Homo sapiens: one gene and its partners. The protein of the gene in region 3 purifies or fractionates together with the protein of the main gene of each other region. This does not show direct contact. Each region holds a gene or a part of one and is shown on either strand. Other genes may lie near its edges. The genes, in order: COLGALT2, PLOD1 and COL21A1.

Region 1 (3,654 bases), on a different chromosome or scaffold from region 3:
TGAATGGCTGTTAGAAATATGAACATATTACCTTCCCAAAAGAGACACAGAAAATAGCACGCATTCAAAATCTCTTACAGCTAGAAGAAATAATTACAACAAAAGAGGAATGCTTCATCCAGTGGTGTACTGGACCACACATTGTTAAATTTTCAGAAAGTTTGCAAACCAGTTGACATGTTGATAGCTTGGAATCCATAAAAACAAAAATCACGTTAATCCCCACCACTCTAATGACACCTCATGTGGCAGTTTTACATGTTTTTAATAGCTGTATCATCAAGTGGCTATACTGCAGTTTACTTAACCTTTCCCTTAGCTTAACAACATTTAAGCTGTTTGCATGGTGGGAGTATTTAAACCATAAAAATTGGCAATGCTACCAACTAGGGTTTTTCCCACAAAGAGCCAGTTATTAAACATTTATCAGCACACTACTGACCTTATTTCTCATCCAAAACAAAACCAAATATAAAGGGGAGACTCAAACTTTAGCCCTTTGGCCATGAGAATACATTGAACATACTCCCTCTTTTTTTGAGACAGGGTCTCAGTTGCTTAGGCTGCAGTGCAGTGGTGTGATCATAGCTCACTGCAGCCTCAACTTCTTGGGCTCAAGCAATACTCCCTGCTCAGCCTCCCGAATAGATGGAACTATAGGTGTGCACGACACCACAACTGGTTAATTTTTTGATTTGTTGTAGAGATGTGGTTTCGCCATGTTGCTCATGTTGGTCTCAAACTCCTGGGTTCAAGTAATTGTCCTACCTCAGCTTCCCAAAGTGTTGAAATTACAGGCATGAGACACTGCTCCTGGCCAACATATTTTGCTTAGCACATTTTTATCCTACATTGATACATATTACATTAATCAGTTGAATTTATCTAATTCTTTAATTAAAGAATAAAAAATATAACCAGCCATGAGCATTCACTAAAACAGACCACTATTTTGAAGATTTTACTATGAAAAAAAGAAATAATAAAAAATCAAACCTTTTTTAACTTGAATTTTATAAAAATAACCTACCATGGTAGTTTTCATTATTAGAACTCTTTGGAAATAAATTTGGCAACATACATCGAAGGTCATTGAAATATTTGTACTTTTTTTTTTTTTTTCTTTTTTGAGAGGGAGTCTCGCTCTGTCACCCAGGCTGGAGCGCAGTGGCGCGACCTCGGCTCACTGCAAGCTCCGCCTCCCAAGTTCACGCCATTCTCCTGCCTCAGCCTTCCGAGTAGCTGGGACTATAGGCGCCCAACACCACGCCTGGCTAATTTTTTATATTTTTAGTAGAGATGAGGTTTCACCATGTTAGCCAGGATGGTCTCAATCTCCTGACCTTGTAATCCGCCCGCCTTGGCCTCCCAAAGTGCTGGGATCACAGGTGTGAGCCACCGCGCCTGGCATATTTGTACTGTTTGACTCAGTAATTCCACTTCTAAAAAGCTATCCTAAGGATATAATCTTAAATGCTGAAAAATTATATTAATCATGACGGTCACGATAGTTAAAAAGTTGTGAATAATTTAAATGTTTTTCAAACCGAGATAAAGGTTAAGTAAATTGGAACATAGCCACTTGATGATAACACAGTTACTAAAAACGTGCAAGTTTCTATCTATGATGTTGTTACGGTGATGGGGATTTAACATCTGTCTTGTTGGTTTTCTTTTAAACTTTTTTTAATTTCTAAGTTTTTCTATAGTGTTCTTATGTTAGTTTTGTAAGGACAAAAAGAATTAATTAAAAATAGTAATTCCTGAATCAGGAATTGGCTAATTTGACGTTTCTAAGGCTAAGCTCTTTAGACTATTTTTTTCATAATAAATTAACACAGAAGAGCCCAACTGGGTGTAGCATTGGACCCAGATTTACTGCCCTTCCTAAAAAATGCTTGCTCTGGGAACACAATGACACGCATGTTTCAAGGGAGTAAACAAGAGAAAGGTGAATGGGACTACTGTTGACCGGGTGTTGCCTTGTTAAAACTAGTAGCCTTAATTCATTTAAGCAAAAGACTTGCCTTAGGGGTGATTCCGCACCAGAAATTAGAATACAGGCCCCGAGACTCCAGCATGGGGGCCACAATAGTTTTGTTTTCTGCAATCAGTAGATTGAGGGTCTGTGGATTAGTCAGGAAATTGTCAACATCTATGAACTAGGAAAAGAAAAGGATAATGTTAGGTGAAAAGGTACTTTTCAGTAATGAGTTTGAGAATAACCCAGCCCTTCTGAAGGATCCCAGAAACTTGCTCATGACATATGGAACCAGCTATCTATGTCCTCCTTATTGAAACCCATTGCAGCTAGGTGGCTTTCATTCAGTCAAAATATATTTAGTCTAACTTTCGTATGTTGGGCTCTGCATAAGGCACTAAGCAGTAAATTGGTGCTGCCATACTGGGCATAGCCTCAACCAGGAACCAACCTACACTTTGGCTAGTGTTTTAGGCACAAGATATTAATGGCTCCCAAGCCATTAAAGGTTCATTCAAAAACACTTATTGGCTGCCCAGTCTAGGTACAGATGGGCATGCCTACTTAGCTTTTCTATAGTAATGCCAGAGTAGCTCAAAACAGATCTATCAATGAATTTTAATGTGACAAGTAGAATTTTTGTTTAAGTACATTATATCAACCCATGCTAACCAGTGAAGCTATTTCCTATTCTTAGAAGTCCATGTTAACAGTGATTTATTTAGAGACAGTATAACAACAGATTCTAATTTATAAAAGAAATAATCATACTGAACTATACACTGAAAAAGGGATAAACTGACAGATTTTACCTTTTGTAGGTTTTATCACAATAAAAAATTCAGAAGTCTTCATTTTTATGATAGTCCATCTGTTTACCCCAAATTTTGTGATTTAACATTTGTACACTTCAATGGCATTTAAACAGCTACACAATGTTAAATATTGTCAGTACAATTTGAAAACTTCTATGAAAGGATTTGTGTCACAAGTGTGCGTGATACATTTTTGGGCAGATTTTCACTGTGGTTGAGGGGATGGGGATGGACATAAATTCTCCAAAGAGAGCATCACTGTGCCAAGCAACAGATGCTACTCCCCAGATCATTCAGGAGCAAAAGGGAACCATTTCAGAGCTGTTCAGCTGAATCACTTTTTTAGATAATTACTTTTTCATATCCCCCAAATTCTTCCAAAAAGTTGTAAGAACAACTTACATTGCTTTACCTACAGCCTTTCCTGTGAGCTAAAAATATGCAGAGTTCTTATGCCTGTTGCATGGCAGAGACCAAATAATTCAGGCACTTCTTCACTTACCCACTGAAAATGCATGTGGGCCTGAAGATGAAGTCCAGGTAGCCCAATTTTAAACTACCAAAAATTTCATTGTGCCTTTCTTAAAAAGTGGGGGAGGCACTGCCTAATCAAAAAGGTTGTTTTGATTGCTTCCATGGTTCTAGTTTTTGGACGACTGATTTGGATACACCTGAGATGACAGTTGTCAAGAAATCAAACATCTGTTTTTACCAGAATGTAGTCTGACCATTTTTCCCTCGCAGTTCGAAGGGCTGCCTGTCGTAGTTTCATCACATGGGCAAACCGGGAGGTTGGCCAGTGCTTTGGTCCAATTTCATCAGGGTAAGACCTAAAATAATAATAATAGCTCATCATTA
Region 2 (3,654 bases), on a different chromosome or scaffold from region 3:
TCACCCGAAGAAGCAGTGATAAAAATATCACCTTCCTCGTAGAGTGTTGACCGTGAAATAAGATAATGAATGTAACATGCCTCATACAGCACACGGTATCTCACCGGGTTCAGTGGTGGTAGCTGTTCCTAAAAGTACTTTGTTTGTTTGTTTTGTTTTTTGTTTTTTGTTTTTGAGAGGGAGACTTGCTCTGTCACCCAGGCTAGAGTGCAGTGGCACCACAAAAGTACAAAAGTACCTTCCATGTTGCTGCTTTTTTTTTTGAGACAGAGTTTCACTCTGTCACCCGGGCTGGGGTGCAGTGGCACAATCTTGGCTCACTGCAACCTCTGCCTCCTGGTTTCAAGTGATTCTCCTGCCTTAGTCTCCTAAGTAGCTGGGATTATTATTATTATTATTATTATTATTTTTGAGATGGAGTTTCACTTTTGTTGCCCAGGCTAGAGTGCAATGGCACAATCTGGGCTCATTGCAACCTCTGCCTCCTGGGTCAAGCAATTCTCCTATCTCAGCCTCCTGAATAGCAGGGATTATAGGCGCCTGCCACCATGCCCAGCTAAATTTTTTTTGTATTTTTAGTAGAGACGGGGTTTCATCACATTGGTTAGGCTGGTCTCAAACTCCTGACCTCAGGTGATCCGCCCGCCTAGGCCTCTCAAAGTGCTAGGATAACAGGCGTGAGCCACCGCGCCCGGACTAGTAGCTGGGATTACATGCACCACCGTATAACTTGCAGTATGTAATATGCACCACTGCCTGGCTAATTTTTGTATTTTTAGTAGAGACGGGGTTTTGCCATGTTGGCCAGGTGGGACTTGAATTCCTGACCTCAGGTGATCTGTCCACCTTGGCCTCCCAAAGTGCTGGGATTACAGGTGTGTGAGCCACTGTGCCCGGCCTTTTTTTTTTTTTTTGAGACAGAGTTTCACCCTGTTGCCCAGGCTGGAGTACAGTGGCACAACCCTGGCTCACTGCAACCTCTGCCTCCTGGGTTCAAGCAATTCTCGTGCCTCAGCCTTCTGAGTAGCTGGGACTACAGGCTCTTGCCACCACGTCTAGCTAATTTTTGTATTTTTAGTAGAGACGGGGTTTCACCATGTTGGCCAGGCTGGTCTCAAATTTCTGATCTCAACTGATCTGCCTGCCTCAGCTTCCCCTCACTTCCCAAAGTGCTGGGATTACAGGTGTGAGCCACTGTGTCAGGCCTCACGTAGCTGCTTAAGGCCAGAATGTACAGTGTGTCTTGGTCATGCCCAGTCCCAGCCATGGTGAGGGAGAGGGAGACCAAGGAAATAAAGATGTGGCCCTGGCCTGGCAGAGGGAGAAGGAGCAGGTTTGTACCAATACGTCAACTACTGGGCAAACCAAGACTGCACGTGCAAAGGAGTGACCACATGGGATGAGATTAAGGAGGGCTTCCTGGAGGAGGTAGACTGGAGGCCTCTTTAGGGGAAGGAATGTGTGTTGCAGACAGGTCAAGGGAATGGGGTGCAGGCTGGGTTTACTGAGGCTGTTTCCTTGGGGATGTTAGGAGGTCATGCCAGGGTCTCTTGTTGGAGGGCTTGCCTTCAGTTCTCTTGTTGTGAACCGCCTCCCAGACCCCTGCATTGCAGCCCAGTGTCAGCGGACCAAGGGGATGGATTGGACCAGTGATTCCCAAATGTGGCTGACATCAGAAATCACCTGGGAAAGGTAGGAAAAATCCAGACTCCTGGGCCCACCTCAGACCCCTAGCCCTGGGGCCTAGGAGCCTGGATTCCACAACCTCTCTTGTGATGCTGATGTGTGGGCAGGTTTGGGACCCTCTGAACTGGACAATCACGTGGGATCCTCAACCAGAGAGGCAGGCTCTGCGTGGCCCAAGGAACCCGGGAGTTTTTTTTGTTTGTTTGGTTTTTTGTTTTTTGTTTTTGTTTTTGAGATGGAGACTTGCTCTGTCACCCAGGCTAGAGTGCAGTGGCATTATCTCGGCTCACTGCAATCTCTGCCCCCTGGGTTCAAGCAGTTCTCTGCCTCCACCTCCCGAGTAGCTGGGATTACAGGCTCCCGCCCACCACCATGCCTAGCTAATTTTTGTATTTTTAGTAAAGATGGGGTTTCACCATGTTGGCCAGGCTGGTCTTGAACTCCTGATCTCATGATCCACCTGCCTTGGCCTCCCAAAGTGCTAGGATTATAGGCATGAGCCACCGTGCCCGGCTTTTTTTTTCTTTCTTTTTTTTTTTTTGAGACAGAGTTTTGTTCTTGTCGCCCAGGCCGGACTGCAATGGCACAGTCTCTGCTCACTGCAGCCGCCACCTCCCGGGTTCAAGCGATTCTCTTGCCTGAGCCTCACGAGTAGTTGGGATTACAGGCATGTGCCACCACGCCCGGCTAATTTTTGTATTCTTAGTAGAGACAGGGTTTCACCATGTTGACCAGGCTGCTCTCAAACTCCTGACCTCAGGTGATCCACCTGCCTCAGCCTCTCAAAGTGCTGCGATTACAGGCGTGAGTCACCACGCCTGGCCACGGAACCTGGGGGTTAAGGTCCCAGTGTGGGCTCTCAGCAGCACTGTTTCCCTGGAAAACAGGGAATAGACAGGTTATAGGGAGGAAAGTGGGCATGTGGGGAGGGCACAGCTAGACAGCTCCCTTACATAGATAGAGAGACAGGGCCCTCTCAACAGATGGCCTGGCCACCGTCCCTGGCTGGGCAGTGCATGCATTTAGGTTAAGAGAGGAGACTCTGGGTTCAGGCTTGTGTCCAAGTCCTGGTGCTGCTGCTTCCTAGCTCCCTTGGGCACATTACTCGCCAGCTGTACCCTTGGTTTCCTAACTGGAAAGTCGGGGGTTAGTATGTGTGAAGTGCTTGGAACAGCATTGGCTGGGCACGGTGGCTCATGCCTGTAATCCAGCACTTTGGGAAGCTGAGGCAGGCAGATCACCTGAGGTCATGAGTTTGCGACCAGCCTGGCCAACATGGTGAAACCCCATCTCTACTAAAAATACAAAAAATTAGCTGGGCGTGGTGGCCGGCACCTGTAATCCCAACTATTTAGGAGGCTGAGGCATGAGAATCGCTTGAACCCAGGAGATAGAGGTTGTAGTGAGACAAGATCTAGCCACTGCACTCCAGCCTGGGTGACAGAGCGAGACTCTGTCTCAAAAAAAAAAAATTGTGTCTGGCACACAGAAAATGCTCGATGAAGGTAAGCCATTATTGTTGCTGTTATTGAGAAGCAGGAACCTGAGAAAGGGGCTTTGAGCCACGCCACCCCATCCCCTTCCCCCACCCCTGCTGCTGGAGTTCAAGAGCCTGTTCCATCAAGAATCCTGAATTGCGCATGCACGCGTACACACACACACACACACACACACACACACACTCACTCACATGCTCTCACGCTGGCTTTTTCCATCCATGAAATGTGACACTCTTCCTGTCCCCAGCAGCCCCCTGTTGCCAAGAGGGCCTCAGAGCTGGTGGCTCTGGTTCTCTTCACCTGGGGAGAGACTTCACCGTCCTGGCAGGAGCTCGGGGGAGCCCTTCCCCAAGTGTGAGCAGCATCCCTCGTTTCTGGATCCCAGGTTCAGGTAGTGAGGCCTCTCCTTCCCACACCTGCCTGGTGTATCCACCCCCTCCTCCCCCAGCACCGCAGCTAATCCCTGCCA
Region 3 (3,654 bases):
AGTTGTGTCAACATATAATGCATACCTTGTGAGTTCTGATAAATCAACTTTTGATGTTACTTCATATCCTTTTATCTTTTTTGGTGAAAGCTGTATTCTTTTCTTAACCTTTTTATTTACATCTAAACCTAAAAGAATATCAAATCCCCTTTCATCACGAGCTGCCACTGGAATTCGTGTTGGACAGACAGATTCTATAAAGCAAAAGCAATAAAAGTTGGTTAATCATGGACTATTCAAACAATAAAAGAAAAATCAAGGGAGAAATACTAGACAATATAGTATTCTATCATTAGAATTATAAAATCTACATATGTATACAAATGTATAGTATATAAATGTATATGAATACATTTTCTGAGAAAATGTAGAAGTATTTTACACATTTAAGAGTGAGATCTTAATATGCTTTTTTCTCTAAAAAATAAGGGATAAAAGTAAAACAAAAATATAAATATTTGTTAATGTATTGTCTTTAGCAAAAAATTGAGACAATAGCAATATGAGACAATATAACACCTATGGAAAAGAAAAACAATGGAACAGGATTTATCATTCTCATCCAGGATTTCCTATTAACTAGTCATACAACTTTGGATAATGCTTTTAATTTATTTAATTCAAAAATGAACACTAAAATTCTTTTCTTGCATTCTTAGCATTTAAGGGGTAAAAAGTATTTTCTGTTCTTGATTTTCTTTCCAGTTCAAGCAGCTTATATTTCTATAGCTCAAATATCATTAGTCTGTCTCTCTGGAAAAAACTTAACCTGGGTCCCATCTATTCATGAAAGTTCTTCAGACGGACATATTATCTCATCTATAATTATATATTAATCATACTTATAAAGAATATTTTCTTAAGAATAATCATTAGCATTACATAGTCAGCTATATAGGTAATAAGTATGATATACTTTAGCTGAAGTATACAATGACTGAAAAAATTTACTAAAGATGATTAATAGCAGACTTTAACAAGCAGAGGGAAAAGAATCAGCAAACTCAATAATTGGTCATTTGAAATTATCCAGTTAGAGAAACAAAAAGAAAAAGGAAGAGAAAGAGTGAAGAAAGCCTAAGAGATTTAAGCAACACCATCAAGCATACCAATATATGCATTTTGCGAGTTCCAGAAAAAAAAAAAAGAAGAGGGTGAAAAGGGGACAAAAAGCTTATTTAAAGAGATGAGGCCAACAACTTCCCAAATCTGGGAAAGGATATGGATACTCGAATTCAAGAAGCCTAATATATGCTAAGTTAAACCCAAAGAAATCCACACTGAGACACATTGTAATCTAATCGTCAAAAGTTAAAGGCAAAGATCACATTTTGAAAGCAGCAAGAAAAAAGAGACTTGTTATGTACAAGGGAACCTTGATAAGACTATCAGCAGATTTCTCAATAGCACCATTGCAGGCCAGGAGTGGGATGACATATTCAAAGTGCTGAAAGGAAAGAAAAAACCTGCCAAACAAGAATGCTATGTCTGGCAGAACTGTTCTTCAAAAATGAAGGAGAAATAAAGACTTTTCTAGATAAACACAAGCTGAGAAAGTTCATCACCATCAGACCTGCCTTATAAGAAATTCTCAAGGAGTCCTTCAAGATCAAACAGAAGTATACTAATCAGCAACATAAAAGCATAAGATAGTATAAATTTTTCAGATAAAAGTAAATATATAGACAGACACACAATATTATAATACTGTAACAGTGTGCATAAATGACTTTTAATTCTGGTGTAAAAGTTAAAAGACAAAAGCATTTTTAAAAACTGTAACTTTAAAAATATGTTAACAGATATAAAATATAAAAAGATGCAATTTGTGGCATCAGTAACAAAGGACAGGTAGCAAAAATATAGAATATTTATATGTAATTTAATTTCATACCAACTTAAAATAAGTTGTTATAATTACATGATGTTTCATGTAACCCCTATGATAACCTCAAAGAAAATACCTACGGAAGATAAATAAAATGATAAAGGACATCACTACAAAAAAAGCAATAAAACACAAAGGAAGACAGTAAAAGAAAAAAAGAGGGACAAAAAGCTACAGGAAAGACAGAAAATAATTACCAAAATGGCAACAATAATTTTTCCCTATCAGTAATTACCTTAAATGTAAGTGAGTATACTCCTTAATCAAAGTACATAGAGAGACTGAATGGTTTAGAGCTACAGATCCAGCTATATACTATCTATGAAAGACTCTAGCCTGGGCAACATGGCAAAACCCCATCTCTACAAAAACAAAAACAAAAGCAAACAAACAAAAAACAACAAAATTAGCCATGCATGGTGGCATGTGCCTGTAGTCTCAGCTACTCAGGAGGCTGAGGTGGGAGGATTGACTGAGTCTGGGAGGTTGAAGCTGCAGTGAGCTATGATCATGCCACTGCACTCCAGCCTGCGCAACAGAATGAGACAAAGGAAAGGGAAAGGAGAAGGGGAAGGGGAAGGAAGGGAAAGAAAGGGAAGGGAAGGGGGGAAAAGGGAAAAGGGAAAGGAAAAGAAAAGAGAAATGAAAAGGACTCACTTTAAATTTAAGGACACACATAGGCTGTAAGTGAAAAAATGAAAAAAGATATTCCATGCAAATGGTAGCCAAAAGACATCAGAGATGTCTATACTTATATCACACAGTACAAAACTATAACAAGAGACAAAGAAAGATATCCTACTATGATAAAAGGGTCAACTCACCAGGAAGATATAATAATTATGATTATATATGCAGCCAACATCATGATAACAAAAATACGAGGCAGACATATACAGAACTGAAGGGAGAAATAGAAAGAAACACAATAATAGTAGAGGATTTCAATAATGATTAGAACATTCAAACAGAAGATCAATAAGGAAATAGAAGACTTGAACAATACTATAGACCAAATGAACCTAGCAGATGCATACAGAATATTCCACCAAACAGCAGCAGAATACACATTCCCTTCAATTGCACATGAAACATTCTCCAGGACAGACCACATGTTAAATCACAAAACATGTCTTATTTAAGAAGGCTGAAATCATACCAGTATATTTTCCAACCACAATGGAATAAAACTAAAAATTAACAACAGGAGGAAAATTGAAAAATTCACAAATATGTAAAAATTAAATAGCACACTTTTGAATAGCCATCAGGTCAAAGAAGAAATCAGAGACAAAGTTAGAAAATACGTGATGACAAAATCACAACATCCAAAATTTATGAGATGCAGGAAAACAGTACTAAGAGAGAAGTTTATAGCAATAAATGCCTACATTAAAAAAGAAAAAGGATATCAAATAATCAAATAAACAACTTTATACCTCAAGGACCTACAGAAAAAAAAGACAAACTAAGCCCGAAGTTAGCAGGAGGAAAAAAATAATTTAGATTTAAGCAGTAATAAATAAAATAGAAAATGGAAAGAAGTCAACAAAGCTAAGAGTTGCTTTTTTGGAAAAATCAACAAAATTGACAAACCTTTAACTAAATTAAGTAAAAACAGAGAAGACTCAAAACAGGAAGTGAAAGAAGAGATATTACAATTGATGCCACAGAAATAAAAAGGATTTTAAGTGACCACTATGAACGACTATATATCAACAAATTGGTAACCTAGAAGAAATGAATAAATTCCTAGAACATATAAC

What was found.
Region 1: the proteins of COL21A1 (region 3) and COLGALT2 purify together in Homo sapiens (affinity purification with mass spectrometry; one large-scale study listed by BioGRID and IntAct). This does not show direct contact.
Region 2: the proteins of COL21A1 (region 3) and PLOD1 purify together in Homo sapiens (affinity purification with mass spectrometry; one large-scale study listed by BioGRID and IntAct). This does not show direct contact.

The regions. Positions count from the first base shown.
Region 1 is NC_000001.11:183,971,589-183,975,242, forward strand, and holds part of COLGALT2 (procollagen galactosyltransferase 2), read right to left. Parts: intron 3,627-3,654; coding exon 3,509-3,626; intron 2,163-3,508; coding exon 2,028-2,162; intron 1-2,027. UniProt on the Homo sapiens protein: Beta-galactosyltransferase that transfers beta-galactose to hydroxylysine residues of collagen.
Region 2 is NC_000001.11:11,941,087-11,944,740, forward strand, and holds part of PLOD1 (procollagen-lysine,2-oxoglutarate 5-dioxygenase 1 isoform 2 precursor), read left to right. Parts: intron 1-3,435; coding exon of another isoform or gene 3,436-3,576; intron 3,577-3,654. UniProt on the Homo sapiens protein: Part of a complex composed of PLOD1, P3H3 and P3H4 that catalyzes hydroxylation of lysine residues in collagen alpha chains and is required for normal assembly and cross-linkling of collagen fibrils.
Region 3 is NC_000006.12:56,170,935-56,174,588, forward strand, and holds part of COL21A1 (collagen alpha-1(XXI) chain isoform a precursor), read right to left. Parts: intron 195-3,654; coding exon 26-194; intron 1-25.